Homo sapiens: one gene and its partners. The protein of the gene in region 3 purifies or fractionates together with the protein of the main gene of each other region. This does not show direct contact. Each region holds a gene or a part of one and is shown on either strand. Other genes may lie near its edges. The genes, in order: CTSB, ATP2B1, SLC22A13, CPT2, PSTPIP2, ACAA2 and MAN1B1.

Evidence for each region.
Region 1: the proteins of SLC22A13 (region 3) and CTSB purify together in Homo sapiens (affinity purification with mass spectrometry; one large-scale study listed by BioGRID and IntAct). This does not show direct contact.
Region 2: the proteins of SLC22A13 (region 3) and ATP2B1 purify together in Homo sapiens (affinity purification with mass spectrometry; one large-scale study listed by BioGRID and IntAct). This does not show direct contact.
Region 4: the proteins of SLC22A13 (region 3) and CPT2 purify together in Homo sapiens (affinity purification with mass spectrometry; one large-scale study listed by BioGRID and IntAct). This does not show direct contact.
Region 5: the proteins of SLC22A13 (region 3) and PSTPIP2 purify together in Homo sapiens (affinity purification with mass spectrometry; one large-scale study listed by BioGRID and IntAct). This does not show direct contact.
Region 6: the proteins of SLC22A13 (region 3) and ACAA2 purify together in Homo sapiens (affinity purification with mass spectrometry; one large-scale study listed by BioGRID and IntAct). This does not show direct contact.
Region 7: the proteins of SLC22A13 (region 3) and MAN1B1 purify together in Homo sapiens (affinity purification with mass spectrometry; one large-scale study listed by BioGRID and IntAct). This does not show direct contact.

Annotation. Positions count from the first base shown.
Region 1 is NC_000008.11:11,858,088-11,861,587, forward strand, and holds part of CTSB (cathepsin B isoform 1 preproprotein), read right to left. Parts: intron 3,393-3,500; exon of another isoform or gene 3,274-3,392; intron 1-3,273. UniProt on the Homo sapiens protein: Thiol protease which is believed to participate in intracellular degradation and turnover of proteins. Cleaves matrix extracellular phosphoglycoprotein MEPE. Involved in the solubilization of cross-linked TG/thyroglobulin in the thyroid follicle lumen.
Region 2 is NC_000012.12:89,590,694-89,593,838, forward strand, and holds part of ATP2B1 (plasma membrane calcium-transporting ATPase 1), read right to left. Parts: intron 603-3,145; coding exon 291-602; 3' UTR 1-290. UniProt on the Homo sapiens protein: Catalyzes the hydrolysis of ATP coupled with the transport of calcium from the cytoplasm to the extracellular space thereby maintaining intracellular calcium homeostasis.
Region 3 is NC_000003.12:38,268,812-38,272,311, forward strand, and holds part of SLC22A13 (solute carrier family 22 member 13), read left to right. Parts: intron 1-3,500. UniProt on the Homo sapiens protein: Anion antiporter that mediates the transport of urate, orotate and nicotinate in exchange for organic or inorganic anions. Translocates urate and orotate across the apical membrane of proximal tubule epithelial cells and involved in urate renal reabsorption.
Region 4 is NC_000001.11:53,199,824-53,203,323, reverse strand, and holds part of CPT2 (carnitine O-palmitoyltransferase 2, mitochondrial isoform 1 precursor), read right to left. Parts: intron 2,606-3,500; coding exon 2,525-2,605; intron 1,002-2,524; coding exon 895-1,001; intron 1-894. UniProt on the Homo sapiens protein: Involved in the intramitochondrial synthesis of acylcarnitines from accumulated acyl-CoA metabolites.
Region 5 is NC_000018.10:45,995,761-45,999,260, reverse strand, and holds part of PSTPIP2 (proline-serine-threonine phosphatase-interacting protein 2), read left to right. Parts: intron 1-421; coding exon 422-467; intron 468-1,432; coding exon 1,433-1,512; intron 1,513-3,500. UniProt on the Homo sapiens protein: Binds to F-actin. May be involved in regulation of the actin cytoskeleton.
Region 6 is NC_000018.10:49,786,034-49,789,533, forward strand, and holds part of ACAA2 (3-ketoacyl-CoA thiolase, mitochondrial), read right to left. Parts: intron 1,329-3,500; coding exon 1,258-1,328; intron 1-1,257. UniProt on the Homo sapiens protein: In the production of energy from fats, this is one of the enzymes that catalyzes the last step of the mitochondrial beta-oxidation pathway, an aerobic process breaking down fatty acids into acetyl-CoA.
Region 7 is NC_000009.12:137,106,834-137,109,683, reverse strand, and holds the end of MAN1B1 (endoplasmic reticulum mannosyl-oligosaccharide 1,2-alpha-mannosidase), read right to left. Parts: intron 2,435-2,850; coding exon 2,237-2,434; intron 2,154-2,236; coding exon 2,022-2,153; coding exon of another isoform or gene 1,722-2,021; exon of another isoform or gene 1,306-1,721; intron 1,297-1,305; coding exon 1,093-1,296; 3' UTR 501-1,092; downstream 1-500. UniProt on the Homo sapiens protein: Involved in glycoprotein quality control targeting of misfolded glycoproteins for degradation.

The DNA of each region.
Region 1 (3,500 bases), on a different chromosome or scaffold from region 3:
TCGTGTCTCAGGTGGCAGTCAAGAATGAAATGAGGAGGACCAAAGCGCCGGCACATGCCTGGCATGCAGTGATAAGGTAGGAAGGGCACTCGCTCCAGCGGGCTCTGTTCCCTCCCTCTCTCCTCTAACACTTCTAGCTCTCAGTTCACACTAAACCTATTCCAATAGGTCCCCAACGCCAGGAAGAGTCTAAATGAAAACAAGTTTGTTTTTTTTGTTTGTTTTAAGACAGGATCTCACTCTGTTGCCCAGGCTGGAGTGCAGTGGCACGATCATGGCTCACTGCAAACTCTGCCTCCTGGGCTCAAGAGATCTGCTCCCCTCAGCCTCCTAAGGAGCTGGGACTACAGGCATACACCACTACGCCCAGCTTTGTATTTTTTGTAGAGATGGGGTTTTGCTATGTTGCCCAGGCTGGTCTCAAACTCCTGGACTCAAGTGATCTGCCCGCCTTGGCCTCCCAAAGTGTCGGGATTATAGGTGTGAGCCACCATGCCCAGTAAAACAAGCTCTTAACTTCAATTAACCCCAGCATTTAACATCCAAAAATGCTTCCACTCTTGAGGGTCCCGAGACTGCTGAGAACTCAAAAAGTGTCAAGCCAAACACAGAGGTCCTGACAGCAGTGGCAATCTCACTCCATTGTGCAACAGGCGCCTTTCTCTCCACAACAACGCAAATCTCAATCACTCTGGACAAATGCAGATGGTGAAAGTGACAAGCTGAGCTGTTAACAGCTTTCCAGGGTCTTTGCATGGGACAGCAACCCATTTTCACTTCCCTTTATATAGGCACCCACTTCCCTTTTATTTCTTAATTCTGTGCTTTCTGCTCTGCTTCTTACAAGAGATGATGAACACAAAGTCCTTATTTCACGAGGGAAGGATGTGAACTCTTGTGTGCCACAAGACCCCTTTCCAGGATGCGGGCTGGTGGAAGAACAGCTGCGAGCAGATGTCATCTCTAGACCTTGGTCTGCTGTGCTGCTTAGGCAGACCTGAGTTCCAGTGCACCCCTCTGCCCCTTTTCCAAGCTAATCTTTGGGTTAAAAAAAACAGAAAAGGGTGCTCCTCATATCCTCTCTCTCCAAACCTGCAGAGCACTTATGAGAAAGCACGCTCCACCCCGGCTCTGTAGAACGTTGTTATGTGCCAAAAAGAGTGTGCGGCCAGGCGACTCTATCAACCAGAGCACCTTCCTCCCCCGGCAAACGGCACCCTAGACTACCTTGAAGCCGTTTCCAGGACAAATAGGGACCTTGCGATCCTGGAAGGAGGTGGAATGAAAGTCAAAGGAGAGGAGGTGCGGCTAAGTCACAGGAGGTGTTAAGTCCTGACACCCTTAAAGAATCAGTTTTGGGCTGCCACCAAGCTCAATAAAGAAGGCTTTCTGGCCAGGCACAGTGGCTCATGCCTGTAATCCCAGCGCTTTGGGAGGTCAAGGCAGGCGGATCACCTGAGGTCAGGAGTTCGAGACCAGCCTGTCTCTACTAAACAAGGTGAAACTCCTGTCTCTACTAAAAATACAAAAATTAGCCAGGCACGGTGGTGGGTGCCTGTAATCCCACCTACTTGGGAGGCTGAGGCAGGAGAATCACTTGAATCCAGGAAGCGGAGGTTGCAGTAAGCTGAGGTCACACCACTGCACTCCAGCCTGGGCAACAGAGCGAGACTCTGTCTCAAAAAAAAAAAAAAAAAAAAAAAAAGGCCGGACACAATGGCTCACGCATGTAATCCCAGCACTTTGGGAGGCTGAGGCAGGCGGATCACGAGGTCAGGAGTTCAAGACCAGCCTGGCCAACATGGTGAAACCCTGTCTCTACTAAAAATACAAAACTCAGCCGGGCATGGTGGTGCTGCCTGTAGTCCCAGCTACTCAGGAAGCTGAGGCAGGAAAATTGCTTGAACCCAGGAGGCAGAGGTTGCAGTGAGCCAAGATCACACCACTGCACTCCAGCCTGGGCGACAGAGCAACACTCTGTCTCAGAGAAAAAAAAAGAAAGAAAAAGCTTTCTTACATGGTCACAGAGCCCTCAGGTAGACTGCACTTTAAATCTGTAAAGGATTTAAGGAGACAGGATATGTACACTTAAAATTTCCAAATAAGCCAAGTTGCTAGCTCCTGGCTGATAGACAAAAAAAGTGAAAGAATTCTTAGCAAAGCTGTCATGCAGTATTTTGCTCTTCCTCATTCGTTGGTGCTGTGGCTATACTGCTGGCTCCTCTCATAGTCAGCTCTAAAGAATTGAAAGTTGGCCGGGCACAGTGGCACACACCTGTAATCCCAGCACTTTGGGAGGCCAAGGAGGTGGATCACCTGAGGTCAGGAGTTCGAGACCAGCCTGGCTAACATGGTGAAATCCCATTTCTACTAAAAATACAAAAAATTAGCCAGGCGTGGTGGTTGTGCACCTATAATCCCAACTACTCGGGAGGCTGAAGCAGGACAATTGCTTGAACCCAGGAGGTGGAGGCTGCAGTGGGCTGAGATCGCACCATTGCACTCCACCTTGGGCAACAAGAGGGAAACTCCGTCTCAAAAAAACAAAACAAAACAAAACAAAAACAAAAGTCAAGTGCTTACATTTTGCCAGAAGCCACAAATGAAGACTGTGCCTTATAGGCCAGCAGAGCGGCTAAGAGCACGGGAACAGTGGAAAGGTGGGGAGACTGTGAAGGCTCAGTAAGACCTTCCCAGAGTACTTTGTTTCTTTCTCTTCTATAAAAACTAGTCTTGGCACTCACCGCTAATAACGGCAGTTGCTCCTGAAGTTTTGACCACTTAAGTGCAACCACAAAACAAGACTTCGGCGAGTTTCATCTTCCCCTACTTCAACCTGCCAGACACACCTCAATGCTGGAGCAGCCCTGCACTGGGTGGGAGTGTGCTGACCTCAACTATGCTCTGTTGTGACCCAGAGACCTTTCCTTTTTGAGTATGAATCACAGCCTTGCTGTGGCCTCTGATGTGTTACGTCTTTGCCCCTAATGGAACTGTGTTTAGTAGATTCTTGGCTTATGATTAAATTAAGGACAAAAACAAAATCCAAAGGGCTCTCAGGCCTCGGTCTCATCAGTCCCCTGATGAACGGGCACCAGAGGCCCATCTGTCCCATGGAGCAGGCTCCCTGCAGCTGTAGCCCCGAAGCAACTGAAAACCTGTCAGAAAACCCACCCAGCACACAGGTGTGCAGAGGCAGCAGTGATGCTCACCAGCCTTGGAGGCTTCCAGGGAACCAGGGGAAGCAGAGAAGCCCCACTCCACCTCCCTCACCTGAACCAGGTTGGCCACTCACAGGTCCTTCCCCGTGCTGCCCACCTGCCAATCATCTATGCAAACCAGGTACTGCAGGCCCAGCCCACGCAAGCTGCTCTCCATAGGCCTGAAGACACCTATGAGTGGAATATTGTACAAGGTCAGCCACAGCAACCCCACATCCTGCAGACAAAATGACTACTGTACACTTGAAACAGCAGACACTACGAAGGCCCTCAGCAGTT
Region 2 (3,145 bases), on a different chromosome or scaffold from region 3:
AATACACTGTTCAGGACCATGCTTGGGTACTACTGATGATCCACAGGTCACTTACGCTGAGTTACTGTTTATCTGTCAGTTCATTTCTCCCACCCCCCAAAAAGCACCCTCAGTCTGGCAGAAAGCTTTGCTTTTTTTTTTTTAAAAAAATAAATCTACATTCGTACAAGTGTGTCTTCTGTTGAAGTCCAAAGACAAGAATACTAGCTTGTCCATCACAATATGTGAAAAGACCCAGTTTCAATTTGTTTCTTTACAATGCAGCTAGTGTGTTAACATTCAGCTTACAATCAGAGTGATGTTTCCAAACTATGTAGTGGGCTTCCTGGGGATGAAGAGGTAGCAGACTTGTTCATTTCTATTGTAAGGTGAATTCCACTGTCAACAGCATTGTTATTTTTGTTGGGAGAGGGTGGAGGACTGGAGTTACGTTTTGTAGGAGCATCATCTTCGGCATCAGTGTCATCAATAAGGGGGATATGAGGCTCTGAATCTTCTATCCTAAACTCAGGATGTGTCATAAAGTTGTGAATCGAACTTCTTGATTCCGGTTTTTCTAACCCTTCATATAAAGAACTACGAAATGCATTCACCACTCGAATCTGTAAATATCAGAAAATACAGAAATATGTCAGTACACTATTAACAACTTAAAAATGGTTCATTTATGAGTTTGAATCCACAAACAGCTAGGTATGAGTGAATCATATTTGCATGTAATGCAGTGGAACTTGCAATACACTGTAAAAAAATGAATATTTTAGTAAGACACTACAGAACAACAAAACCACATACTCTAAGAATTAAGAGGTAAAGAATTCAAAGTAATATTAAGAAAATCTCATTGTCATTGGCTAAAAATTTAATAGCCATTTTATAGGATTTTTTCCCTAAAAGAACAAATCAAACACAAAACAAAACAAAAACTTAACCATACACAAGCTTAGCTGATTTTTTAAATTAAAAAGAATGTATTTTGAAAACAACTCAAATAAGTTAAACAAAATCAAGCACAAAGGGTTACTATTTATCATGCTAGGAATTAGGGTGTCACCGACCATGAAAAAGCCAAGCAAATATAAGCTGAATGCCACAATGAACTCACATCTACCCCACTACTCCCTTAATTAAAAACAAAAATAAGAACAAAACCCAAATAAATGTCTATAAAATGCCATTAAACAGCTATAAATATTTGAGTATATGCCATTTGTCTATCATTTGTCTATAAAGTTTTAGTGTTTTTCTCTGTAACAGATTAAAACTTAAATCAATTACTACAGTTATCTGGAAAGAATAGATCAAAAACAAAAACAAATCCTCTGGGATTCTTCTGTGAAAAATTTCCCAAGAAGACACAAAGTGTTAAAAGTTTTCTAGTATTTTCACCCCTAAGCAGATAGCTCAACAATTCATCTTCCTCTCAGTCTGCTGTATAAATGAAAAAGATTAGTGGGCAATCAAACTTAAAAACATCAGTGCACACACTGACATTAAGTGCTATTAACTCAAGCGTCATTCAGATTTAGAAAAAAAAGGACAAAATCCAACTAGTTGAGCATTTACTATGTATCAATTCAAATACAGTGTTTGCTTTTGCTTTGATTCTAATAAATCCTGTTTAGTAATAAAGACATCATTTACTCATTGTTAAGAGAAATAAATAACACTTTGACATTCTAGAAAAAAGATGCGGTCACCAAATTCATCTCTTTAGACAGCAATAATGAATAATACATTTCTTCAAATGAACATGTGAATGTGTTTAAAAAAATGTAATGTAGAGTTTAGGGCCATGCACCCACATCTCACCTTCAAGTTGTCTTTCCTTATTTGCCAAGCCCTATTTGTAAGCTGCTTTTAGTCCATATTCACTTAGCCCTTTATATAGAGAGTACAGCATAGTCAACTGAGAAATACAAAAGCAAAATGTCTGGGTGTAAATTCCAGCTCTGCCACTTACTACCTGAGGAACCTCGGTCAAACAGGTTTCTTCAACTATAAAATGGGAAATAGCAATGGTACTTGCCTTACGGGGTTGTTGTGGGAGATTAAATTCGTTAGCACACTACAAACTTAAAACAATGTTAGGTCACAAGTATCGAGGCCAGGGCTTCTCGAACTTTAATGTGCATACAAATTAGTTGGGGATCTTGTTAAAATGCAGATTCTGATTCAGCAGGGGCCTAAAGTCCTGCATTTCTAACAACCTCCAAGGTGATGCTAAAGCTGCTGGTCCATGATCCACACTTGGAGCAGCAAGCATCTATTCTATTAATGTCTTGCAGCTTTACCATCTTTTATAATTCCATTCTATTTGATTGCTTGTACTTCAGTTCCTTAATTTGACTGATGAATAGCAGCAAATATTTTTCAACTTCTTTTATTGCTCTTGTTCCTCTTCCCCTTTACTAAGATGTAAAGTGTTCTACATATGGAATGTAAACAATGTTTGCTAAATATAACGTTATAGTAATTCATTCAGTGTTTTATTGTGAAGTCTTAAAATTCACATTTTATACATGTGAACATTCAGCAAGTATCCTGACTGTCCTAATAACAAACTGTAAAGCTTAAAATGCAAAAAGATAACTTTCTAAAAAAAAATTTGTTGGTATCAGCAGCCCGTAGGCACGGAGGAGAATACAAATTAGAGGATCAGCCAGCAAACTTGATGGGTGATGAGAACTGTTCAAGACAACCCTGAAGATGTTGCTTATTTGATAAGGTTGCTGGTGCTGCTGCTACTGAAGATAGAACAACAGTTAAGCTTTCTGTGTATGTGTGTGTTTTCCATCTGTTTTTCTTTGTAATCAGTCGGTATAAAAGTGAGCAGTGAAGAATCGGGGGGAAATAAATGTACTTTTTAAACATGTTAAATTTGGAAAATATCTAGAGCTCAGAAGAAAAGTGTAAACTTAAGTTAGAGATTTGAGAGTTAGTGAAGCTCTAAGAGGGGCAGAGTGTAAAGGTGAGGGCAACAAGTATATGTGCACACACAATCACACACATACACCGGTGGCAGGCAAAGAAAGATTAAATCCCTTCTTAGCAAAACTTCAATTCTGAGAAGATTTTTCCTATCTGAATTTGTTGAACAATATTAGAGATTTTTTTTTTCTAACCACTTCATAAATAATAAAAC
Region 3 (3,500 bases):
GTGTTTTCTAAACTAGATCTAGGAAGTGGAATGTGGAATCAATCTGTCCTCCTCCCTTTAAGGACTGTCCACTGGTTAATAAATTTTTTAAAAGACTAAAAAATAAACTCCTCACACACAAACACCCGCAAAACAAACAAACAAACAAACAAACAAAAAAAACAGCATTAAGATGTCCCATGTTACTCTCGAGGGGAACCAAGGAGCAGCTTAACAATTAGCATTAGTGTACTAGAGAGTCATTACAAGCATGCCTTGCTTTTAAGCAAACAAAAAAATTTTTTGAAGCAACAGAACAAACGAGTACTGATCACTTTTCTGACAATAAACAATGATTCAAAAGTAACTAGTATTAGGATGGGGAAGGGAACCATACCTATGAGCCTTGTCTTGCAAGAGTATATGTTGGTAGGATTAGGCATTTGTCATTATTGCAGAGAATGAACTTCAATTTTTTTTTTTTTGAGACAGGGTCTTGCTCTGTCACCCAGGCTGGAGTGCAGTGGCGAGATCTGGGCTCACTGCAACCTCCACCTCCTGGGTTCAAGTGATTCTCTGACCTCAGCCTATCAAGTAGCTGGGACTACAGGCATGCACCACCATGCCCGGCTAATTTTTATATTTTTAGTAGAGATGGGGTTTCACCATGTTGGCCAGAGTGGTCTCGAAGTCCTGACCTCAGGTGATCCACCCGCCTCAGCCTCCCAAAGTGCTGGGATTACAGGTGTGAGCCACCGCGCCTGGCCTAATTTTTAATTCTTAGTTTGACTTAAACCTTGCTTTTAGTGTGATGGCGACAAAAGCTGAGCTGAAAGGGCTTTGGAGAGATGTTCACAGCAGCACATGCCTGAGGCTCTCTCTTCTTTGGCTCTGGAGGCTTGGTTAACAGCATTCTTTTTTTATTTTATTTTATTATTATTATACTTTAAGTTTTAGGGTACATGTGCACCATGTGCAGGTTAGTTACATTTGTATACATGTGCCATACTGGTGTGCTGCACCCATTAACTCGTCATTTAGCATTAGGTATATCTCCTACAGCTATCCCCTCCCCCCTCCCCCCACCCCACAACAGTCCCCAGAGTGTGATGTTCCCCTTCCTGTGTCCATGTGTTCTCATTGTTCAATTCCCACCTATGAGTGAGAATATACGGTGTTTGGTTTTTTGTTCTTGCGATAGTTTACTGAGAATGATAATTTCCAATTTCATCCATGTCCCTACAAAGGACATGAACTCCTCATTTTTTATGGCTGCATAGTATTCCATGGTGTATATGTGCCACATTTTCTTAATCCAGTCTATCATTTTTGGACATTTGGGTTGGTTCCAAGTCTTTGCTATTGTGAATAATGCCGCAGTAAACATACTTGTGCATGTGTCTTTATAGCAGCATGATTTATAGTCCTTTGGGTATATACCCAGTAATGGGATGGCTGGGTCGAATGGTGTTTCTAGTTCGGTTAACTGCATTCTTTAGGCCCTTCTCTGTGAGTGCAGAATGCTCTGCATACTCAACAGCCTTCCAGTCCGAGGCCAGTCTGGAGTGATAGGCTTCTGTTTTTTGTTCTTGGCAAGTTTTACAAGAGTAGAGGGATCATTCTCTGAGATGAATTTGGGTCTCGACAAGCAAGAAAGGAATCTTTGGATAGCGGTGAGTTATCACAGGCACCCACTTTTCTTTCACATTTTTGAATGAGGACGGAGATACCACTGAAAAACTGACTAGAAATACATCTGTTTGTAGATACTTAGCAATTGCAATCTTTTATAACCCTCTTGCCCAGAAGTGTCAAAAAGTCCAAGAGCATATGGCTCTCCACCAACCATAACCATGACCACATAGTTGTTAGAAATAGTTGGTACATTTTCAGATGTAAATTTGTTTGTTGTGTAGGATATCGGTATGTTTTACCAATGGCATCATTGCTTACAACAGCACACTTAATGGTCTGCATTGCTGAAATAGTTTTGTATTTACTTTAAATATTTCGAACTTGATGTTGACCTCAGCTTCTCCCTGGGGCATGGCGGCACTCAGGACCTCTCTCCTAGACAGTGCTGGCATTGCAGTTGGAACTTGGGCCTCTCACTCTACCCTAACATGCTCTCCTCACCCCAACTCTTCCAAAGACTGTGACTCCCAAGGAAATGAATGCTTTGTGCCCTGCACCACATGCTAATCCCAAGCTCAGTTCCAGAGTGCAGCTGGCTTTGTGTGATCTTCTATCTCTGGTTTTCATCTATGAGGAAGGGTTCTGCCCATTGACCCAGAGGACCCTCTCTGAGCTGACACCTAAGCTTCTTTATTATAAATGGTGACTTCATATTTAAACTTAAATGCAAACAATACTAATTTGAAAAGAGAAAAGTATATTTCCATATAGGCTGTGTGCTCTTGAAGGTCAGAATATGTTTCTCCTTTTCAACCTACATTTCCTGGGCGTCCACCCTTGGTAAAAGAAAAAAAATGGGCTGGGTGCAGTGGCTCGTGCCTGTAATCCCAACACTTTGGGAGGCTGAGGCAGGAGGATCACTTGAGCCCAAGAGTTCAAGACCAGCCTGGGCAATATAGTGAGACCTCATCTCTACAAAAAAATAAAATAATCAGCCAGGCATGGTGGCACATGCCTATAGTCTCAGCTACTCCAGAGGCTGAAGTAGGACAATCGTTTGAGCTAGTAGTAAGCCGTATTCATGCCACTGCACTCCAGCCTGGGGAGACGCTTTCTCAAAAAAAAAAAAAAAAAAAAAAAAAAATGACTCCCCTGTCTACGTGGACCTTGGAATGGGAAGGTGGGAAGACCATCAATGAATAGCAACAATCATGTGATCTGTCCAGCGACCAAAGAAGTAGGAATAGGAGAGAAGGGGAAGCAGAAAGAACAACCATTTCTGGGGTCTGGAGGCGTGAAAATGCCTGGCATATTTAGGAATGCTGACATGGCAAAAGAGACTGGGAAATAGGCAACAGCTAGCTCTTCAAGGGCCTTAGATATAGTGCTAAGGAATTTGGGCTTTCTCCTAGAGGCCAAAGGGAGCTGTTGAAGGTTTTGGAATAGGGGAGGGATCCGGGATGGGGTATACGCCAAGAAATGAGGGTGGGATTCTGCAGACCACCATGGCAGGCTGCAGACAGAACCATCCACTGTGGGTGTTGGGGCTGGGGAGGATGACTGGCATCCCAAGTTGGAGCCCTCTTCATCTCTACCACCTGCAACATGACAACACCATGAGAGCTCAGGCATATCTCGGCGCCTCTCCAAGCCTCAGTCTCTGCTGCTGCACAAGGGGAATGATAAGCCATTATGGGGTTAGAATGAGGATTTAATGTCATAGCAGGTATATAAACTGAAGAGAGGTAGTGAATGGTGGCTGTTGACCAGGTGTGCCAGCCTTAGAAGACTCCAAGGCTTGGTGCTCATGCCCACAGGGCACTTCACCCCCTTGTGTCTGAGCTGTCTGCCACCAGGTGAGAGCTTTGTGAGCACAGAGGCCAGCA
Region 4 (3,500 bases), on a different chromosome or scaffold from region 3:
GCTGTGAAAATAAGGGGATAGGAAGTATGTGTATACACATCCCACATATGTGGTGGGATGTAAAGTACTGCTGAATTCTAATCTTCTACAGTGAGATGTCAATAGCTAATGACTAAAGCAAAAAAATCAAGATGCAGTAAGGTAAGTATCTAATTTAGAGATACGGGGGTATATAACAAAAGATTTAGGAGCTGAAAGTGAGAAGTGGGAAATAAGATGATGAGGAAGTTGCTGTTTTTCCTAACAAGCCTTATAGAACTGTCTGATTCTTTAAACTATATGCATGTATAACCTTGGTAAATATATAAACTAAATTAAAAGAAGTGCTGTAGGAACAGAGGTGGAAGCAACCAACTCTGAATGGAAAGGAAAAAGGACTGAGAAGGTTTCACAGAAAACCATCCTCCTTGGATCTTAAAAGAAGAATTTGCCAGGCAAAAAAATGGTAGTGGGAACAGCATGGATAAAGGCACAAAAGAATGAAAGACTAAGGGTTCAGGGAGCAATGAGGAGTTTAGCAGGAAGTATGTCAGGGTGGGTGGTGAGAGAAGAGGCTGGAGAGGACAGTTCTGTCTGACAGTGAAGGACCCAGAATGATATAGGACATAGGACTTAATCCTGCATCCTTTTCAGACAGGACCATTGATTAGGTTCTGCCTCAATCCCATCTACAGAGAAGGCTGGCCATCATTCTTGAGCATGGGCTCAAGTCAACACCTCAGTAGAGGAGGAACACACTCAGCCTTAATTTACCTCAGGAAGGGAGGATGAGACGTTACTTCATTTGCTGGTCTCACCAAAAATATCTCTGAGACCAAAACAGGAGAGAATATGCCTTACTTTTCATTATGGAGGGCTCTGGGAGAAATCATACCCACAGCCCAGCCTACCTACCCGAAATGTAGCTTGTATGTTTATTCTGTTTGTCCAGAGCAACCAGCTGCTCATGCAGTTCTTTTCCAATCCCATTTTCAAAACTCTTGCAAAATTGTTCTGTTTTCCTAAAACATTCAAGAAAAGACAAAATCAAACCATGGTAGGGAATACATGATTTTTAGGTTCATGGCGAGGAACTCATAATAGAGTTTTGGGTCCCCAACAGCATAGCCCTAAAACCTGGAATGAGATCAGAAAGTACCTCTAACCAGAACAGGAATCAATCTAAAATTGATAATCTAGACTACCTTCTTAAAATGAATGATTAGGAAAATCAATCAACATCTCACAAAATAATCCATATCCTAGGAGGCAGTTTGGCATGGAGAAAAGGACACAAGCTCTGGAGTCAACAGAAGTTAAGTCTGAATCCTAGCTCTGTTGCTTTTCAAACTGTGTGATCTTGGATAAGTTACTTGATCTGAGTCTCGGTTTCTTGATGTGTAAAATGGATAATAATACCACTTTACAAGATTAAAAATATTTATAAAGCTAAGGATTTAGAATATCCTAAAACATAATACTCAATAACTGGTAGCTATTACCATATCAAGAGAAACTTTAAATGACTAATAACAAATATTTGAAAACAGAGGCCTAGATTATGGATAATTCATCTGCTTCTCCATCACTGTCCAGTGAAGAGTTCTGTGATTCCAACAACAATGCCAGTTACCTGTACAGAAAAATTTCCATTATGGAAAAAGAGTACTACACTAGGCTATAAGAGCTTAATGCAATCCACTTTTTGACAATATTTGATATTATTTTCCAATTCCATGCTGTATTTGCTTCCTAGGACTGCTATAACAAAACACCACAAACTGGGTGGCTGAAAACAACAGAAATTTATTCTCTCACAGTTCTGGAAGCTTTAAGGACAAAATCCAGGTGTCAGTAGGACTATATCTTCTCTGAAGACTGGGGAAGAATCTGTTGCATGGCTTTCTCTTAGATTCTGGTGTTGCCAGCAATCCCTGGCATGCCTTGGCTTGTTGACACAGGCAGAGGACACAATCTCTGCCTGTGTCCTCACACCGCTGTCTCTGTGTCTTCTTACAAGGACACCAGTCATATTTAATTAAGGACCCACAATACTCCAGTAGGACCTCATCTTAACTAATTACATCTGCCACAACCCTAATTCCAAATAAGATCATATACTAAATTTCATGAAAAAGGGCATAAATTTTGGAGGCATGCTATCCAACTCAATAAACATGCTCACGATGCAGACTTCTGGTCTGCCGTATGGTCTCCTCAATGGACCTCCCTTCCAAGGGTACATGCTCTCTATAAATGACCAGGACCAGCGAGCCTCCCAGGTACACCTGCTAAGGGAAAGTACACATTTGGCATTCTGGCTTATAAACTATCTCCTGTTGAGCCTGTTTAGAGGAACTCTCGGGGCTTGGTCAGTCCTTCATGAATGAAAATCTATTTCCTGAACTTGCAGATGTACAACTAGGTTCTGGGTTCCTGGAGACCCAGCCACGTCACAGACATTCCCTGAAGCTTGGTCCACCACTACTTGCCAGCCTGTCTTGAACCACCCCAACTATGCTCACCCAAGGTTCTCAGTGTTTACCTGAACTGGCCATCATTCAAGAGAGGCTTCTGTGCACTGAGGTATCTCCTAATGGTGTCTTCAAGTTTGGGAATAGGCAGCCTGGGGAGAAAGCAGGGTCAGTGTAAGGCTGACAGTATATGGAAGAGGTTAATTAGCTTTACAAGCTAATGAACTGATTACTAGATCATTAATTTCCTCCCCCAAAACCAATAATCAGAAGCGACTGACAAATCAGAATCAATGGGTTTACTAATGCCAAGTATATCAATGGTAACTCTACTTTTAAGTAAAATAACAACTAAATCTTTAAGTAAAATACAAATATAATTATTTTAAATAACAATAATAGATTCAAAATGGGGAAGCAGAAGCTGCCCCAAGAATTCCTGTTTTCTGGTCACAATGATAACACCTGTGCTAACACTGTATTGGCCCTGATTTAATTCTACCCTTAGTTTGAACAACTGCATTTTTCTCCCCTAGGATAAAATGAAAAGGTTCTATTTTTTAAATTTTCTTCTGCATTTTACAACAAATAATTATATAAGAGTGAAACACAGATCTGTCCAAGGGCCAGCCATATATGGGGGCTACAGTCACTAAAAGGTAGGAATCGACCAGTGAGCCATGCCCAGATACCAGGAACGCCATTAGGAAGAACCAAATAGTCCCTGTGCTTAAATAACAGGAACAGCAATTTGCCTACTTATCATTCTGTCTACTAGTGATTCCCAAAGATGGCTATGGTGATGAAGTTACTGGCTTATTGTGAAATGAAAACACATGGACAGTAAAGTGAGGTGTATTTTCTCTTTCAATTCATTGGTTTTATTGAAGGAAATATCCCCTAATAGCAAAACAATCAGAGTTTGTTAGGCTGCCTCTACCAACTCAAAATTAACACTGATATGCAAAATACTGAAATGTATCAGTCATTTAGGAAAACTGAAACATGATACATAAAGCAGTTTAAAAGCCTAATATAAGATATACT
Region 5 (3,500 bases), on a different chromosome or scaffold from region 3:
GGAAGAGCGACAGAAGCATGGCTATGAGGGAGGGAGATGGGGTGATAAGAGGTTGGAGGGATTTCCCAGTTGTTGTCATTTTTCTTAAAGACTCAGTTCATGTATTCTTTGTAGTCAGGCTGCCTTTTGCTTGGGTGGATTACAAATTTAACTTTGTAAAATCTAGATACAAGATTTCTGCAACCAGAGGGCTGGGTGTGTCTTTAGGAAGACACTGGGCAAGATGCTTTATGGATATTTTCCAAGATTGATAAGATTGCAGGGCACGTTGAATGATTTGCTCATGAGGGAAATGTACACAGGACTTGCACTAGACCTGGTCTCTTCATAGTTACTGCTTTTCAATCTGTTTTGCCTGTGGAAGCCTCGTCCAGCATTCCCAATGCTTGCTCTTTTTTTGTTTGTTTGTTTGTTTTCACAGCTTTTTGTGAAACTGGCAACTTCAAAGACCGCAGTAGAGGACTCAGGTGAGGGGGCAGTTCCTACGGATGGGGGAGGGTTGCTGGTGGGGTTTACGTTATCCTAAATGTGTCCCTGAGAAAGGGAGTTTTATATACCTTAAAGAGAGAATATATGGATATTCAGCAGGATTAGTGAGATATCTGAAGGGAAAAAGGGAGGAAGGAAGGGAGAGAGTAAGGAAGGGAGGGAGGAAAGGAAAGAAGAGGAGAGAGGAAGGGAGGGTATATTAGAACCCCGGAAGGTGGGAGGAGGCTATGAGGCCACTGTTTCTGGCTTCTGTCTGCTTAGATCTTGCTGCCTTACATGGGAGTGAGATGGTGGAGTCATGTGGTAGCGGCTTTGCAATCAGGTGCTTCCTCTGATGTATTGGGGCATCTATCTAAAAGACCATTTCAGCCCCGGTAGCTCTTATCTGCTGTGAAACAGCCAAGCTGCAAGGCCTTGTTATCACTGAAATCTAAGACCCAAACCAGGCATTTGCAAAAGCTTCTAATTCCCAGAATATCCTGCAGGAAATATCCCTCATGACTGTGGTGGTTATGTACATCTTAATCTCTACATTTGAAACTAAAGTAACTTGGTGCCCCTTTAGGGCTCAAGGTAGTTCTCTTCTCTGCATCCTTCATCAGACAATTTTGAAAATGAAAAGCGATGGGAAATACTGAGGTGGAATTACACAAACAAAACCCTGGCTGAGGTTTCTTATCAGCTTTCACTTCTTCCTTAGAACCTTTCTTTCTCAATGTTAGGTCCAATGTTTAAAAAGAAAGTGATACCCTCCTTTGCCTACTTCACCAAATATGATGAGGGTGAGAGATGCAATAACTCCCAGTGCTCAGAGTCCTGGGGGCCTTGTAAGCTCAGCACAACTCGGATGAGTTTCTTTTGCCATCTGAGACCAGCCTGTGGGTGTATCTGCGAGCCACCTTCCTGTCTAGTTTCTGACCCAGGTCTCTCCCTTCTGTTGCAGACAAAGCATACATGCTGCACATCGGCACCCTGGATAAGGTCCGAGAAGAGTGGCAGAGTGAGCACATCAAGGCCTGCGAGGTACCCGTAACCGGAAGCTGCTCAGGACTGGGGTGGGTGGGTGGGGGTGTGTGTAACAGGAAGCTGCTCAGGACGGGGGGGGGAGGGGAGGAGGGGGAGGGGAGGGAGGGAAGGGGGAGTGGGGCCGGGGGTTGGGGGAGGACGAGGGGGCGGGAGGTGGGTCTTCTGCCCAGAACCTGGAGAGTCTACTTTTGTAGAAATGATCTGCCCGGATTCTCATAGGGTTACAGAGCTTGAGGGCAAATTAGAAATCAGAAATTTGGCCAGGCACGGTGGCCCATGCCTGTAATCCCAGCACTTTGGGAGGCCGAGGTGGGTGGATCACCTGAGGTCAGGAGTTCAAGACCATCTGGCCAACATGGTGAAACCCTGTCTCTACTAAAAATACAAAAATTAGCCGGGTGTGGTGGCGCACACCTGTAATCCCAGCTATTCTAGAGGCTGAGGCAGGAGTATAGCTTGAACCTGGGAGGCGGAAGTTGCAGTGAGCCAAGATAGTGCCATTGCACTCCAGCCTGGGCGACAGAACAAGACTCCGTCTCCAAGAAAACAAACAAACAAAAAAAGAAATCAGAAATTTAAGTGAAGAATGGAAGGAACTGGAATAGTTTTCCCCAAACCTTGTCTGCCTCATCCCCATCCTGACCATGCTGTCCAACAGTTCAAATTTTAGTCTAATGTTGGGTTAGCACAAGCATAGAATAGCTGAATCAGTTAATGGTCGATTAAGTAATTATCTTTGGAGAGCCCGGCCTCAATAGGCTCTAAAGGGAATGCCAACAGCAAGTGAGTAGGCTTTGGAGATTTGTTTGTTTGCTTTTTGTTTTGAGTCTGGGTCTCACTCTGTCGCCCAGGCTGGAGTGCAGTGGCATGATCAGAGCTCACTGCAGCCTGAAACCCCATGAGCTCAAGTGAAGTAGATGGGACTACAGGCGTGCACCACCACGCCTTGTTAATTATTTATTATTTATTTTATTTTTAAAGAGACAGGGACTTGCTCTGTTGCCCAGGCTGGTCTTGAGCTCCTGGGTCTCAAGCAATCCTTCCACCTTTGCCTCCTGAGTTGCCAGGGTTACAGGCATGAGCCACCATGCCTGGCTGGAGGGTTTTCTTTTTTTTTTTTACTCTCCTCATACCTTCAATTTCACCACTGCTCCCTTTCTTTTGCAGCAAATGACCTCACAATTTCCAAGAGAAAATAAAAAACATAACTTGGAAGCTTGCTTAAGTTTCTGTCATCCTGCCTACACATTTTCTTCCAGTGGTTCTCAAAGTGAGGTCCTAGGACTGGTAGCATCAGCATCACCTGGGAACTTGTTAGAAATGCAGGTTCTCAGACCAACCTCAGACCTACCGAATCAGAAACTCTGGGGGTAAAGCCCAGCAATCTCTGTGCTAATAAGCCTTCCAAGTGATTTTGATGGGAATTCAAGTATAAGAATCATTGACAGACACGCCTGCCCCACTCCTTTTTTCCTGTTAGCACAGAAAAGGGGCTGTTCCTTCCTTGTTCAAGATCTTTTTTCATCCAGCTTGCCTTTCCCCACCTTCTTGGGCATGGAGAACTTGTCAACTTCTGTTATCTTGCACACAGACTCAACTCTCTCCTAGCTTTAAAACCCACCAGTTCAGCCAGGCATGGTGGCTGCTAATGCCTGTAATCCCAGCACTTTGGGAGGCCAAGGCAGGCAGATCACCTGAGGTCAGGAGTTCAAGACCAGTCTGGACAACATAGTGAAACCCAGTCTCTACTAAAAATACAAAAATTAGCTGGATGTGGTGGCAAGCACCTGTAATCCCAGCTACTTGGGAGGCTGAGGTGGGAAAATCACTTGAGCCCGGGAGGTGGAGGTTTCAGTGAGCTGAGATCATGCCACTACACTCTAGCCTGGGCAACAGAGTTAGACTCCATCTCAAAAAAACCCAAAAAGCAAAAAACAAAACCAGCAGTTCTTACTTTCTATCTACGACCCCTACTACCCCCGCCC
Region 6 (3,500 bases), on a different chromosome or scaffold from region 3:
AGTACTGTATTATCATATGATCTTAATTCAGGAATTTTATAGATAAGGAAACTCATTCTAAGAAAGGTAACTTTTGCAGAGTTGGGATAAAATTCAGTCTTGTGCTCTTTCCTACTATACTTTGTGGTCTCTCAAGATGGTGCCTCATATGTGCTTAGATCCACCATTATCTTTCTACTCTATATACAGAGCCATCTTCAAGGAGGTACTAAGAGACCTAGAATAGGTAGTGAAACTAGGCTTTTGAACCTAGGAAAACTATGGTCTGAGTTATGTCCTTGAGAATGTATACATTTCCAAATGATTATGAACAACTTCCCAAAGTTGATATAGTTTAATAGTTTTAAATGTGAGGTCTAAAGTGAGAAATTTAGTGGTACCTATTTGCTGACACAAATATAATAAATTAAACAGCCTCTTTGAGGCTCTGAACTGTGATCTGCTAAAAGTGGAAGAGATTTAAAGATAAACCATTTGTCTGAAATCATGGTTTCCTGTGTGAGAGATTATCATAGAGGAAATCACACCTGTGCCTACCCCTTCGCTATCAAGTTAAATAGATTTCCTTTGTTCTATTAGTTATTTCCCAATGCCAGGCATCACATGCTTAATCACCTAAAATTTTCAAATAAATATTCCAAAAGTGTGGAATGTATATAACCATCTTTAAATGTTTCTCCACCTCTTCTTTTAATTATGCTTAAGACACTTTAGTTCTAATACTAACATTTAAAAAGAAATCACTCAATAAATTTAAGTTCCAGTGTCAAAAATTATGATAGGTGCATCCCAAATCAAGCTACAACTATCGTATAAAAGCCAAAGATACATTTAAGGGAGGGGGCTCTATCTGGCGAGAAGGGCAAGAAACTTGTAGATTTGGCACTAAATATTGCTTTTCTATTATGTCAATTATTTTACATATATTTTTTCACTTTAATATTCAACAGGCATGTTAATAGTCTAAAATGTAACAGTTTTATAAAGTAGTAAGAAATTCCCAGGAATTTATACTTGAGTAAGAGAAATCAGGCAGTTTGAATATTCAAATATAAATAAAGCATGTTAACCAGGTGGGGAAAAGTATCAACACAAGGCATCTAATGAAGGTACTATTTATTTAGATGTACATCATTTGGAAAGGCTAACTACAATGAAATTCAAAGAGCAATGAGACCAAATTAAAGTCATTTATGCTATAAAAGTACATGGTTTATTCATGTTGTTAAAAAAAAAAAAAAAAAAAAAAACACTTACCTCTACCAAATCCATGTCCTTAAGACTCAGTCCTGCTTTCTTCAGTGCCCCACTGATAGCAGGGACAGGACCTATATAATAATAAAAATCTTCTATAAAAATATAGAAATAAATGTCATCTTATATTTACGTATCAAGCTTCTCCTTCTTTCCAAGTAAGGAAGAAATAATGCGGCAGTTATTAGTAGCCACAAATCTTACTACCTTGACCGTACCTATTAAATGAAGTGACCATAAAGAGGCAGAAAAAGGGCCCAGGCATGGTGGCTCATGCCTGTAATCTCAGTACTTTGGGAGGCTGAAGTGGGAGGATCACTTTAGCCTCCTGGGCAACACAGCAAGACCCCATCTCTAAAAAAGAAAAAAAATAATAATAAAAATAAAATGGAACCAAGGTGAAAAGTTGTTTATACATTCAAACTGCAGATAAGAGAATTACATGAAAAGTTCTACCATAAACGGCTTTAAGATTGAAAACAGCCAAAGGAGTCCATATATGGGATTTTAGTTATGTTAATAGATTATAATTGATATCAAAGAGCAAGGCAGACTGAGTGCTCTACTTGGGATCCAAGCCATATGCATTCACAGCACAGAAGTTACTGTGGCTACACTCTGAATTTTCAGGCCCATTTGGATAAAAGACAAGAAATAGCAGTATCTCCACATGGGCACAGAGAGATGGGAAACTACGAGGCACTTCAGGGAAGGTTTTATGAAGTAAGGTGATGTTTACAACTCCAAGGGTAGGCAGGAAATTTAAATAAAACATAACTCCTAATTTAAGAAATGCAACTCCATCTAATAAGACTTCTGAAATAAACTTTAGCTCCCAGATTTCTGATGATGTAATGAGAGTTTAATATTGCTCATAATTTAAATCCATATTTTTTCTCAAAAGGTAAAAAATTTGGGTAGAGAAGATTATCTACTTCTCGACTTGTTCTTAAAGAATGAAACTGCCAAAAATGTCTACAAAGAAAAATATGTAGTATGTTCTGCTGAATTCAAGTAGTCAAATATTCTGCATCAAGTTTCACAAGCATTTTACCTTATAAAATGGAAAATCAGTCTTTACAAGAAAGGCATAATGAAACCTAAATATAATATTTATTTTGTCACGTAGTTAAAATACTCTTTGGACAACAAACCACGTGCTTATTGATTAGGACTATCCAGTTAATGCACTTCAATTTAAAATGCCAGTTTCATGTGGCTACTGATTTACTACAGCTACTGATTTACTACAGGATCTGATTCCAGATTCTCTTTGTATGTCTAAAGCATGAAATCATGAAAATGAGATGGGTAGTCAGTAGTAAAGCATCAGTTATCCAGCCTGGTGAGGGGATGAAGTAGCCAACAGTGGTGACAGACACATAAAAGGTGGACAATGTTCAGACCACTGTACACACTTCCTTGTCTGCATAAACAACACAGCAAGCATGACTCGTACTTTCACTTTAACTCAGAATCCACCGTAACAATATGCTAGGCCATAACTCGATTTTTAAAGGACTCTTCCCAGACCACTGTTATTTACTGGGACTTCAGGAAGGTTTAGTATTCTTGTTAGGAAAAGGAGACCTTATTTCTAGTCCTGGTTCCTGTCACTAATAGCTGTGCGACTTTGTGCATCTCTCTGGGCAACAAGCTACTCATCAATAGCACTCTGAATGGGTTTTCCACCTTTTTCTCTTTAAGCATCAGAATTCTTTTTGCATATGATGCCAAGTAATAGATAATGCCAGACTGCTCCAGCTGAAGAGGCTCAAAGTTCCACCCACCAACCTCTACCATTGCCACCCCTGAGGAGTTCCAGGGAGTGCTGTCTTTCTATAGCTGTGTATTTCCTCAGAACCAGTACTATTCTTTTCAAGTCATGGCTTTCCCCGTTTTTTTTTGGTCTGCAGCTATTCTGCAGGGCTAAGGATTGCTAGTCATTAGGTAATCATGGAACTGAGAACCACTATTCTTGTAAGTTAGATTAACAAACCAGTTCCCACTAGATACTTAATAACTTATTCTCCCCACTTATTCATCTGGGATGCTTCAACGAGTTACTTTGTTTAATCCCATCACTATATACAAGTGACAGCCAAACTTCTAGATGAAGGGGGCAGCTGATACTGTGGGACATCTGGAATGTACAGCTCTGTTCAAGCCCCGAGGAAAAATGACAATCCTACCACAGGAGCATTCTTTGTACTTTAGGGCAAATATTCAGGCCCAGGAACAGAAGG
Region 7 (2,850 bases), on a different chromosome or scaffold from region 3:
TCTTCCGGAAGTGAAGGTGATGGATTTTTCACAGGGGAGAGCGAGGGGGCGTGGTCCTAAGAGGTCACCTGGTTCAGGGTCGGGGGGAACCCAGCCAAGGCCCAGGGTCAGCCCTGGGATAGGGACAGCAGTAGAGTGATGATGAGGACAACTCTGCCACCACAGCCCAGGGCTCGGGGCCATAGCCATGCCAGGCTGCTGGGAGCTGCCTGACCTGAGGGCCCGTGTATCCCTCAGCTGTGCGCCTCAGTGCCAGCCCTGCAGGGAAACAGGCCCTGTGTGAAACGCAGGCGCAAGGATGCCTCCCGCCAAGCATCTGCCCCGTGGGGCCAGGGACACGGAGCTTCCCCGTGGCCTCTCCCTGCCCACCAGCAGGGGACAGCTAGAGTCCAGTCTCAGCAAACCGAATTCTGAGACGTGACTTGAAGAATACCTTCTCCCCAACGTCCGCCCAGACTTTCCAGTCATGGAGATCCCTAAAGACACAGGCGACATCGCGGTTAGAGCAAATCAACTTTTATCTCCACCGAAAAGACCCATTCCACTGGAGGGGCCCGTGAGCTAGACGGACTTGCCGTCCAGCCCTCCAAGCCCCCTGCGGGGCGGCCAGGAGGATCCCTGAGTCCAGCTTGTAAACACCAGAGCCAGCCCTGGAGCCTCAGGCCTCTGGAGTCACGGCAGCCCCTCCAGACCCTTGGATTGGGGACATCTGAGGCTTCACGAGCCCGGGCAGAGCTGCACCCTGGGCTGTCCACTCGGTCACCCCAGTACCAGGGACCACCTCGAAGCCCCCCTCTGGTCGGCCCACAGAGACCTGCTCAGGCTTCAGCAATCGTGAGTCATGATTCGTGTCTTCTGGAGGAAGCAGGCGGAGGCTCCAGCGGCCCAGCCCACCCCGCATCACACCAAGACTGACGGCCTCACTTGTCCTCACGGTGTCCTGATTAAAGCAGAGACGAGGAGGAGCCCAGAGCCAGTTCAGAGCCTGGGCCACTTGGCGGTTGCCGGTGCTACGTGGGCCCTTGGAAAATGCCACAGACCCAGCAAGGTGCCTCTGCCCACCCGAAGTCCCCACACCAGCAGCCATCCACCCTAGGCAGGGGTCCAGATAGGCAGAGGGTGGGCTTCGGTGTTGAACACGTAGGCATCCAGGCTGAGCAGGTTTGGGTCATCGGAGAAGAGCAAGAACAGATACTTGAGCGTCTCCCCCAGGAAGAAGCTCTCCATCTTGTCCCTAGGCTCGGGCTTCTGAGGATCCTGGACATTGTTGATGGAAGAATAGCCACCCGAGGGGACCTGTGCAGCAGCCAGGGCCTCGTCACCACACGGGGGGCACCCTGCACCCCCCTCAGCCTCATCACCGAAGCGCTCTCCACCCCATGGTGAATGTGGCCCCCAGCGCAAGCTCAGGGTGGAGGGCGCCTGGATGATGGCCACCCCCAGGCGAGCCGTGTGGTTCCACCGGAGCCCACCTGGAAATGCCAACAACCCTCAAGTGACCACGACAGAAACCGCCTCCCCCAGAACCTGGGCTCAGGGGGCCTCACAGTTGCCGCACAGGGCACAGGGCACAGGGCAGACGGTGGGAGCGGAGGCAGCGGGGGCCTCAGGCCAAGATCACAGCAGAGCCAGGAAGTGACACTCTGGCGTGGAGGGCGTGACCTAAAACAGGGCCTGGTCCACAGTGGGGATGGTGCCCCAGTCATGGGTGCGTGTGCCTCCTAAACTGGGGGGATGCTGGGCCCACAGCAGAGACCCTCCCTAGACAGGCCCTGAGAAATGAAAATGAGGGGTGCCCAGCCCCTCCAAGTACTCTGGGTCCCACAACCATGAAGCTCAGTGGGGATGGGGATGCCAGGGCCCCCAAGCTGCAGTGTGGCCACCCCGAGGCTGCGGCAAGCCCGCCCCTCCCGGATCCAGGTCACAGCCACCACCAAGAGCGGAGCCAGCCTGAGCCCCACAGCCCAGCCGTGCCTGTGGCCCGGTGGCCGTGACCACGCGGGGCGAGGACAGGTGCTCACCCGTGTGAATCGGCTGAAGCTCTGCAGAATCTCCCAGCCCCAGTCCTGGTATTTGCGGTCCCCTGTGACGCGGTACAGGTAGAACAGGCTCTCCACGGTCTCTGGCCGCAGCAGGTTGTGCCTGTCTGCTGGCTGTGGGCGGAGCAGAGCTCAGGGCAAGGCCAGCCCTGCCAGCACCCTCCTCCTGATGGACCCTGACCCAGGCCCAGGCCCACCTTGACCTCCACGTCCCGACGGCCCGGCTGGGGGTAAAGGTTGAAGTGCACGATCTCGGGACTCAGCCCCGTCTCCATCTGCCGGTTCATCTGGTAACAAGTCTCCATGAGCTCCTGGGCCAGCTCCATGTGGCTGGCGGGCAGGCCGTGGTAGACGCCCAGAGCCAGCGTCCCTGGCAGGAAGCACACCAGGTGGTCCTGGAATCAGAGGGTCTCTTCAGCCCCAGATCCCAGGCCCTGCCCTCAGCCTGCAGCTGCACGGGCAGCCAACGTGGGAGCCCAGCGCTGCCTCGGCCCTGGTACCCTGGGAGGGGAGGCCACGCGAGGGCACTTGGCATGGAACAGCGGAGCTGCCTGGACCAGGCCCTCCAACCCGGCCCCCACACACCGCCCGAGGACCTGCTACACACCGGGCACGGGGAGGGAGCTGCCCTGGGGAAGCCCTGCCCACCCCAGGTGCCACACAAGGCCTTACTGCCCTGTTGCCAAGACAGGCCTGGCCAGGCAGCCACGGTCCACCCAGGGCCTCCACGTGGGCGCCATGGCCAGGATTTCGTTCTTTTTGACATCATGACTCAGGCACCTTGGAAGCCAAGGTAAAAGGGGCGGCGGCC